Regions from separate parts of the Homo sapiens genome. Here region 2 is linked to region 1. The links come from fine-mapping of genetic effects on gene expression. A gene starts in region 1. The other region holds a variant in brackets. All regions are shown on one strand. Distances are from middle to middle.

Region 1 (4,000 bases):
TGCAGCAGAAGGGGAAATGGGGTCGACTGACACCTCCTTGCCGGTCCAATCTTGCAGGGCGCGCCTATCGGTCCATTGGTCTTAACCTCGTGAGCACTCCAGTCCCCTCAACCTGGTTTCTCCTTTCTGCCCACCTGTTCCCCAGGGGCGACCTCAATTTCACCGATCCAACCCCTGGGGGCGCCTTGCTCTCCACGGGTAGCCCCCCACAAGATAACCCTCTCTCCGTTCGAATTCCCGTTCGCCCACTGGGAATGCACGCTCTTCGCAAGTCCTGCTTGCAGGTACGCCTCCTTTTCCGCCCGAACCCTCTCGGACGCCCCTTTCTCCTTCCACCAACGCACCCTCCGCACCCCGTCAACCCGCACCCTCACCGCCGGCCTGGGGCTCCTCCATCCTGGGACCCACACCTCAGGCAACCCTGTAGCCCGGGCTGCTCGCACCAGGTTGCAGACCACGTGGATCCAAAGGGGTAGGGCATCATCCGGGAGCGCCCAACTGGTGCGGGAGCGCGGGGGTAGGCATTGCTCGACTCCCGATCTGCAGGAAAAACTGGGGAAAATTTCAACGTGTGCAGAGCAGAAAACCGAGGAAGAAGTCTTTTTCCGAAAAATGTATTCCCGAAAGCCGCTGATTCGCTGTATTGCTGGAGTCAGAGGCCCGTCGGGTCCCGATGGGTCGCCCCCATCGTCTGTCCAATATGGTTTGTTGCAACGCCTCCTTAAAGGGGCAGCCACACTGCTCTTCCTAAGCCTTAAAGAGACAGGACGGTCGATTGGTCTGAAATTCTTGAAGAGACAGGTAAGAATACTAGTTAGTAGGGCTGTGCTTTCTGTGTTAAATGTCTTCTGGGGAGGCCCAGATGCCTCACAAGTTCAGAACTTGACTGGGAGAAGCGGGAAAATGGAGAAATAGGGGCAATCCGTCCGGAGGGCGTGAAGTTCCAGCCAGGGGCGGGGCTTCTGGACTCCGGGGGAGCGGGAAACATAGGGGGAGGAGCTTGTGGTTCTCGAGGGCGGAGCCTCGGACCCAGGAGCCCCACACGCGTGGAGTGGTGCTGGGCACGGTGTAGCGTTTGTGGATCAAATGGGACTTGTAGATGCCCTCGGGGGTTTAGTCTCATGCGTGGGAAACCTCGATGACTTTCAGGAAGGGACCTGATCGGCGACTCCTCCCTGCCCCAGGGAGCGTGTAAACAGCGGCACGTGGACACAGATTTGGGGGACGCACCCACTTCCCTTCCCACTGGGGCCGCCCCGCGTTGGGCGGCGGTTGGAGCCGCGAGACGGTGGCTAGACAGGGTGACCCGACTGCATTCCTGGCCAGTGTGTCAGCGCCACTTCCCGCCCCCTCTGCCAAGATTTAGGATCCTACTCCAGAATTGGGGCACCCCTTCTCCCCAGGTGGGAGAGGCTTTCCAGAGCGGAGGGAGGGTCAAGGGGAAGGGGAAATGTTTCCCCTATCCAGGATCTCCAGACGGTTTCCTTCGCGTGGGCGAGAGAGACACCGGGGTGCAGCCCCTGCGGGCTCCAGGACTACAATTCCCACAGGACCCGAGGCAAAGAGTCGCCCGAGGGCGGTCGCGGAGGCTGCTGGGGGTTGTAGTCCAAACTAAGATTTTGAACTCTTGCTGGGACATCCTTTGAAGATCCAACCCGCGCTTTTTATCGACGGGGAGATTCGGGCTCAGAGACCCTGGGGGATACTGATCAGGAAAGGGGATAGTGCGCCTGAAGGGGTGGGGCAAGGGCTCAGGAGTCAGTCTCCAGCCACAGCGAGGCAGGCGTCTCGGCTCTTCTGTATCTCCCTGGCCTGGTCGCTCTCGGCTTCTGGGCCTCGCCCTTCCTGTCTGTGAAATGGACTCTGGGTGAATCCAAATGGGATCGTCTTGGGCTACGTCCTGTCCCTCCGGGACTACAAGTCCCAAGGTGCTCGAGGCGACCTTGGCTCCCCCTCCCCACCGGGACCCGCCTCCCTCCAGCCCAAGTCACGTCGTCTAACCTGTTCCCAGCTCCTGCCCCGCCCCGTTCTCCGCTCCCCAAGCCGGAGCCCGAGCTGGAGGAAGCCCCCAGGTGCCAGGATCTGCCCGGATCCGTGAGTTTCACCCTCCTGGGGACCAGAGGCCCTGAAAAAGCCCAACACCCGCGTCCCTGGGAGGATTGGGAGGGGACTCGGACGCCAGGTCCCAGGGCGGAATTTGGGGCGCGCCGACACCTGGATCCTTAGAAGGAAACTCCGTTGCCTGTTTTACTGGAGGGAAGGAAAGCGGGTTCGGATGCCTGAATTCTTGGAATGGAGGGATTCTACCCCTTCATCCCGGGGAGACGTTGGAGCTGGAATTCCTGAGTCCCTCGAACTGGGGGGCTCTAGGAAGCCGAGTCTTTGGGTAGTATAGGGGTTCGAATCCCCGAGTCTTGGTCAGAAATGAGAGGCTCAGACTGGTGGGGCTCAAGGTGGAATGGGTGACCACCCTGCCAGCCTCAAGCTGCTGTCTCGACCGATCTTCTAGGTCTCTGAGCAGAATTAAGGGTGGGGCAGGGATAGTGGAGCCTGGGTTCCTGAAGTGGAGCAGGACAGGTACCCGGGGTCCCTCCGGAGGCTGTGTCCCGGCTCTCCCCCGACTTTTCGGCTCGGGGATGGGGGCGGGGTAGGAGAGAAAACACCGAGGCAGATCTCCAACCTCCTCTGTGCCGCTGAGCGAACCCAACATGTCATTAACCTGGGCGTCAGACCTGCCTAACCAGAGAAGGGACATCCGCCCTAGGGCACCCCCTGGCGGAGGTGGGCTCCCCTATTGCCTTATGGGGTGGGAAACAGCTGGGTTTGCAGAGGTAGTTCTAGAACCCAGGGCAGAATTCCGGAAAGCGGCTATTGGATTCTGGGAGGTTTGCATAGCCGGGCATTTAACCATTACACGGAGAGGAAGGGGTAAACTGAGGCTTGGAGCTCACACAGGCAGTAGAGTTTGTAGGGTCAGGATTCTGCCTCCTCCTTCTTCTGCAGCTCTCTGGGGGACGGGATTCCATCCGCCCCCGCCAGATTTTCTGACTAACCTTCTGCCTCAGGGCTCCTTGCCCTGACCCTGAGGTGAGAAATGTCACCTCCACGCCCATCTGTCTGACCTGGGGTATTGTGGGAGATAAGGGAGGGACAGAGGCTAATTCTGGAGGTGTCTGTCTGTCCTTGAGGCGGGGGGAGGGCAGGACCAGGCACCTCCCTCTGTCTATCTCCCCGTTCTCTCCACCCCCATGCGTCCTAAGAAGGGGGATTAAAAACAGAATGGGGGAGGCGAGCATCTGATGAGAGAGGAGTGTTTCCCAATGTCTGGGCTTGAAGGGCATTTGATGATAACCTGAAATGAAATTAAAAATAATAACCGTGGTTGCCAAAACAGGGCTCTGGGTGTACCAAGCTCAGAGCTGGTAGGTAGGTAGGTAGGAAAGCTCGCATTGTCTAGAGGAATCTTGGGTGACTGAGAGGTCTCCCTTTGAATAAGGTTTGCTGACCCCAGGGAAGGACTCCTCATTACGAGTGGAGAAACGGAGGCTGGAGAGTGGATATTGCCCACACCCTGGGCTTTTGCCAGCTTCTGTCTGGAATCTTCCAGGGCTCTCCCAGCCCTCCCGTCCCTAAGTGACTGAGGGTGATCACTGGCCAGACTCAGGAATGTACAGGGGAAATTTAGGACTCTGAGAGGCAAGGGCTCAGGAAGTTGAGACCCTGGGTGTCAAAACTCAGGGCTTGTATGATCTCAGAAAGAGTTGAAAGGGCCCTTTTAGGGGAAAAAAAAATTACATTGAGTCTGGACCCCTCACTCTGTTGCCAGACCCTGTGTTATTATAATGAACAGCCAAGGACATCTGGTAATTATGAATCCTGTATGTGTGAACTTTATTTCGCGCACTGCATTGTTCTAATCACGGCTTATAAATTATGTCACTCAATCCTCATACCCCTTTGAGGCGAAGGTATTAATTCTTCCCATGGTCCACATGAGGAA
Region 2 (4,515 bases), 28 kb after region 1:
TTGGCAAGGCAGTCTGAAAGTAGCCCTTTCTTCTTCTTCTTCTTTTTTTTTTTTTTTTTTTGATCTCACTCTAGTGCCCAGGCTGGGGCACGATAGCGCAATCTCAGCTCACTGCAACCTCTGCCTCCTGAGTTCAAGCGATTCTCCTGCCTCAGCCTCCCGAGTAGCTGGGATTACAGGCATCTGCCACCCCACCTGGCTAATTTTTGTATTTTCAGTAGAGACGGGGTTTCACCATGTTGGCCAGGCTGGTCTTGAACTCTTGACCTCAGGTGATCCACACACCTCGGCCTTCCAAAGTGCTGGGATTACAGGCCATTAGCCACCATGGCCAGCCTGAAAGTAGCCCTTTCTAAGGGATTCTTTTCACACAAGTCCAATCCTTTATTTTATATTTCGGATTCTTCTTTTGTGTCCTTTAGTTTCAAGTACATGCCTGATAATTCTATCACCTGAAGTTTGGAGGCAGCTAATCCTATAGTTTGTTGTGTCTGCTGGTTCTCACTCATGGTGGGCTGTTTCCTTGGGTGTTGAAATTGTAGGTTGAGAGGCCAGGCGCGGTGGCTCACGCCTGTAATTTCAGCACTTTGGGAGGTCAAGGCGGGTGGATCACTGGAGGCCAGGAGTTTAAGACCAGCCTGGCCAACATGGTGAAACCTCATCTCTACTAAAAAGCACAAAAATTAGCCTGGTGTGGTGGTAGGTGCCTGTAGTTCCAGCTACTTGGGAGGCTGAGGCAGGAGAATCTGTTAAACCCGGGAGGCGGAAGTTGTGGTGAGCCAAGATTGCACCATTGTACTCCAGCCTGGGCTACAAGAGCAAAATTCCCTCTCAAACAAACAAACAAAAATCTCTGCCAGCTTGGACAACATAGGGAGACCCTGTGTCGATCAAAAATAAAAAAATTAAGCCAGGTGTGTGGCTCACGCTTGTAATCCCAGCAATTTGGGAGGCTGAGGCAGATGGATCACCTGAGGTCAGGAGTTTGAGACCAGTCTGACCAATATGGTGAAACCTGGTGTCTACTAAAAATACAAAAATTAGCCCGCCGTGGTGGTGTGCACCTGTAGTCCCAGCTACTTGGGAGGCTGAGAAAGGAGAATCGCTTGAACCCGGGAGATGGAGGTTGCAGTAAACCGAGATCACGCTACTGCACTCCAGCCTGGGTGACAGAGCAAGACTCTGTCTGAAAAAAAAAAAAGAAAAAAAAAATTGCCGGGCGTGGTGCCTCACGCCTGTAATCCCAGCACTTTGGGAGGCCAAGGCAGGTGGATCACCTGAGGTCAGGAGTTCGAGACCAGCCTGACCAATATGATGAAACCCCGTCTCTACTAAAAATACAAAAATTAGCTGGGCGTGATGGCATGTACCTGTAATCCCAGCTACTCAGGAAGCTGAGACAGGAGAATCACTGGAATCCAGGAGGCAGAGGTTGCAGTGAGCTGAGATAGCACCATTGCACTCCAGCCCGGGCAACAAGAGCGAAACTCCGTCACAAAAATATAATAAATAAATAAATAATTAGCTGAGCGTGGTAATGTACACCTGAGGTCCCAGCTACTCAGGAAGCCAAGGTGGAAGGATCGCTTGAGCTCAGGAGGTAGAAGCTGCAGTAAGCTGTGATCACGCCACTGCATTCCAGCCTCTGCCACAGAATAGACTTTGTCTCAAAATAATTTTTATTTATTTTATTATTTTTATTTTTTTATTTTATTTTTATTTTTATTTATTATTTATTATTATTTTTTTTTTTTTGCGACGGAGTCTCGCTGTTTCGCCCAGGCCGGACTGCATTGGCACTATCTCGGCTCACTGCAAGCTCCGCCTCCTGGGTTCATGCCATTCTCCTGCCTCAGCCTCCCGAGTAGCTGGGGCTACAGGCTCCCGCCATGGCG[T/C]CCGGCTAATTTTTTGTATTTTTAGTAGAGATGGAGTTTCACTGTGTTAGCCAAGATGGTCTTGATCTCCTGACGTCATGATCCGCCTGCCTCGGCCTCCCAAAGTGCTGGGATTACAGGCGTGAGCCGCCGCGCCTGGCCTCAAAATAATTTTTAAAAATGAAAAATAAATAAAGACCAGGAGCCATAGCTCACGCCTGTAATCCCAACACTTTGGGAGGCCCAGGCAGGTGGATCATGAGGTCAGGAGTTCAAGACCAGCCTGGCCAAGATGGTGAAACCCCATCTCTACTAAAAATACAAAAAATTAGCCGGGCGTGGTGGTGGGCGTCTGTAATCTCAGCTACTCAGGAGGCTGAGGCAGGAGAATTGCTTGAACCCAGGAGGTGGAGGTTGCAGTGAGCTGAGATCGCGCCACTGCACTCCATCCTGGGTGACAGAGCGAGACTCCGTCTCAAAAAAAAAGAAAAAGAAAAATAATAAATAAAACCAAACCTCTGCACTCCGTGATTCATCATGAGAGAGATAATGATTCAAATGAAATATATTGCTATGATGACTGTTTCCAAATTGCTAACATAGTTTATGACCAATTTTTGGTTTGTCAAATTCATAATCTGTGAATGTGACCTTATATGGTAAAAGGGAGGTTGCAGTTGTGCTGACCTTGAGGATCTGAAAATGAGACAATAATCCTGGAGTATCTGAGTGAGCCCTAAACCTGGTCTCCAGTGTTCTTTTTTTTTTTTTTTTTTTGAGATGGAGTCTTGCATTGTCACCCAGGCTGGAGTGCAGTGGCACGATCTCGTCTCACTGCAACCTCTGCCTCCCAGGTTCAAGCGATTCTCCTGCCTCAGCCTCTCAAGTAGCTGGGATTACAGGCACCTGCCACCATGCCCGGCTACTTTTTTGTATTTTTTTAGTAGAGACGGGGTTTCACTGTGTTGGCCAGGCTGGTCTCGAACTCCTGACCTTGTGATCCGCCTGCCTCGGTCTCCCAAAGTGCTGGGATTACAGGCGTCAGCCACCATGCCTGGCTCCAATGTTCTTATAAGAGGAAGATTGGATAGGAAGACAGAGACAGGCCATGTGACACTTGAGCCAGAGGCTAGCTGCCAGCTTTGAAGGTTAGGGAAGGGGTTCCGAGCCAAGGAATGCAAGGTATGCAAAGAATTTGGCTCTAGAAACTGAAAAAGACAAGGAAATGATTCTCCCGTGGAGCCTCCCTGGAGATCATAGTGCAACCTAGCAGGAAGGGCCCTCCCACTACCCGCAAACCCCACTTTAGTTTTTTTTTCCTCTAGTGATCGCCATTTTTTTTTTTTTTTTGAGATGAGTCTCACTCATGGTTCACTGCAACCTCAACGTCCCAGGCTTAAATGATCCTCCCGCCTCAGCCTCCCAAGTAGCTGGGACTATAGGCACCACATCCCACTAATCTCTCTCTTTTTTTTTTTTTAATTTTCCGTAGAGACAGGATCTCACCGTGTTGCCGAGGCTGGCCTTGAATTCCTGGGCTCAAGTGATCCTCCTGCCTTGGCCTCCCAAAGTGCTGGGAATATAGACATGATTCACTGCACCCAACCAACATTGGATTGATATTCTCTTAAATTCTCCAACTTTTTCTCCCATTAAGGGACATAGTGCTGTTTATTAGATGGGTAATATCATAGATAATTCGACTTGGACCATGGAGTTCATTCAAATTGTGTATCTTGACAATTTTAGTATTGGCTGATGTAACATGACAATCTAGGAGAGTATTTCCTTGGTATTTAATTCATGTTCTGCTTGGTTTAGCAATTTTATAAACCAGCCTAGGCCTTGCACAGTGGCTCATGCCTGTAATCCCAGCGCTTTGGGAGGCCAAGGCAGGTGGATCACCTGAGGTCAGGAGTTCGAGACCAGCCTGGCCAACATGGTGAAACCCCGTCTCTACTAAAAATAAAAAAATAAAAAAAAAAATAGCCGAGCATGGTGGTGGGTGCCTGTAATCCCAGCTCCTGGGGAGGCTGAGGCAGGAGAATCACTTGAAACCGGGAGGCGGAGGTTGTGGTGAGCCAAGATCGTGCCACTGCAATCCAGCTTGGGCAACAAGAGTGAAAATCCATCTCAAAAATAATAAAATAAAATAAAATAAAATATAAACCAGTCAGTTTCTTCATTAGAGTTCTGGAAATTCTTACCCAGTCCAAACAATATGATCCTAAAATTTATCAGAAACCTATACTCAGGCTGGGTACAGTGGCTCACGCTGGTAATCCCAGCACTTTGGGAGGCCATGGCGGGCAGATCCCTTAAGCCCAGGAGTTCAAGACCAGCCTGGGCAACGTGGCGGAACCATGTCTCTACTAAAAATACAAAAAATTAGCTAGGCACGGTGGTGCACACCTACAGTCCCAGCTACTCAGGAGGCTGAGGTGGCAGGATCACTTAAGCCTGGGAAGTTGAGGCTGCACTGAGCCATGTTCTCACCACTGCACTTCAGCTGGAGCAACAGAAGTGAGACCCTGTCTCAAAAAAAAAAAAAAAAAAAAAAGAGAGAGAAAAGAAACTTTTATGCAACAGTGCTTGTCAGGGTCCTTCCATCCTTTCTCTCTTTCTCCCTTTCTCTCTCTCT

What was found. PIP is the estimated chance that this variant, and not a neighbour inherited with it, causes the effect.
Region 2: its variant is the best candidate, but not a certain one, in a credible set for the expression of PPP1R13L in whole blood (INTERVAL, PIP 0.72).

Annotation. Positions count from the first base shown.
Region 1 is chr19:45,403,093-45,407,092 of GRCh38, reverse strand. It overlaps PPP1R13L (protein phosphatase 1 regulatory subunit 13 like), which reads left to right and starts at 2,024. Exons shown (of 13, transcript NM_006663.4): 1 at 2,024-2,094. It overlaps POLR1G (RNA polymerase I subunit G), which reads right to left and starts at 449. Exons shown (of 3, transcript NM_012099.3): 1 at 375-449. The coding sequence starts at 396. RefSeq lists enhancers at 1,173-1,372, 1,343-2,138.
Region 2 is chr19:45,375,059-45,379,573 of GRCh38, reverse strand. No RefSeq gene overlaps it. Among named protein-coding and RNA genes, the nearest start is that of ERCC2, 6.7 kb to the right of the region's middle. RefSeq lists enhancers at 2,557-3,395, 3,396-4,233. The variant T/C (reference allele first, on the strand shown) is at 1,896.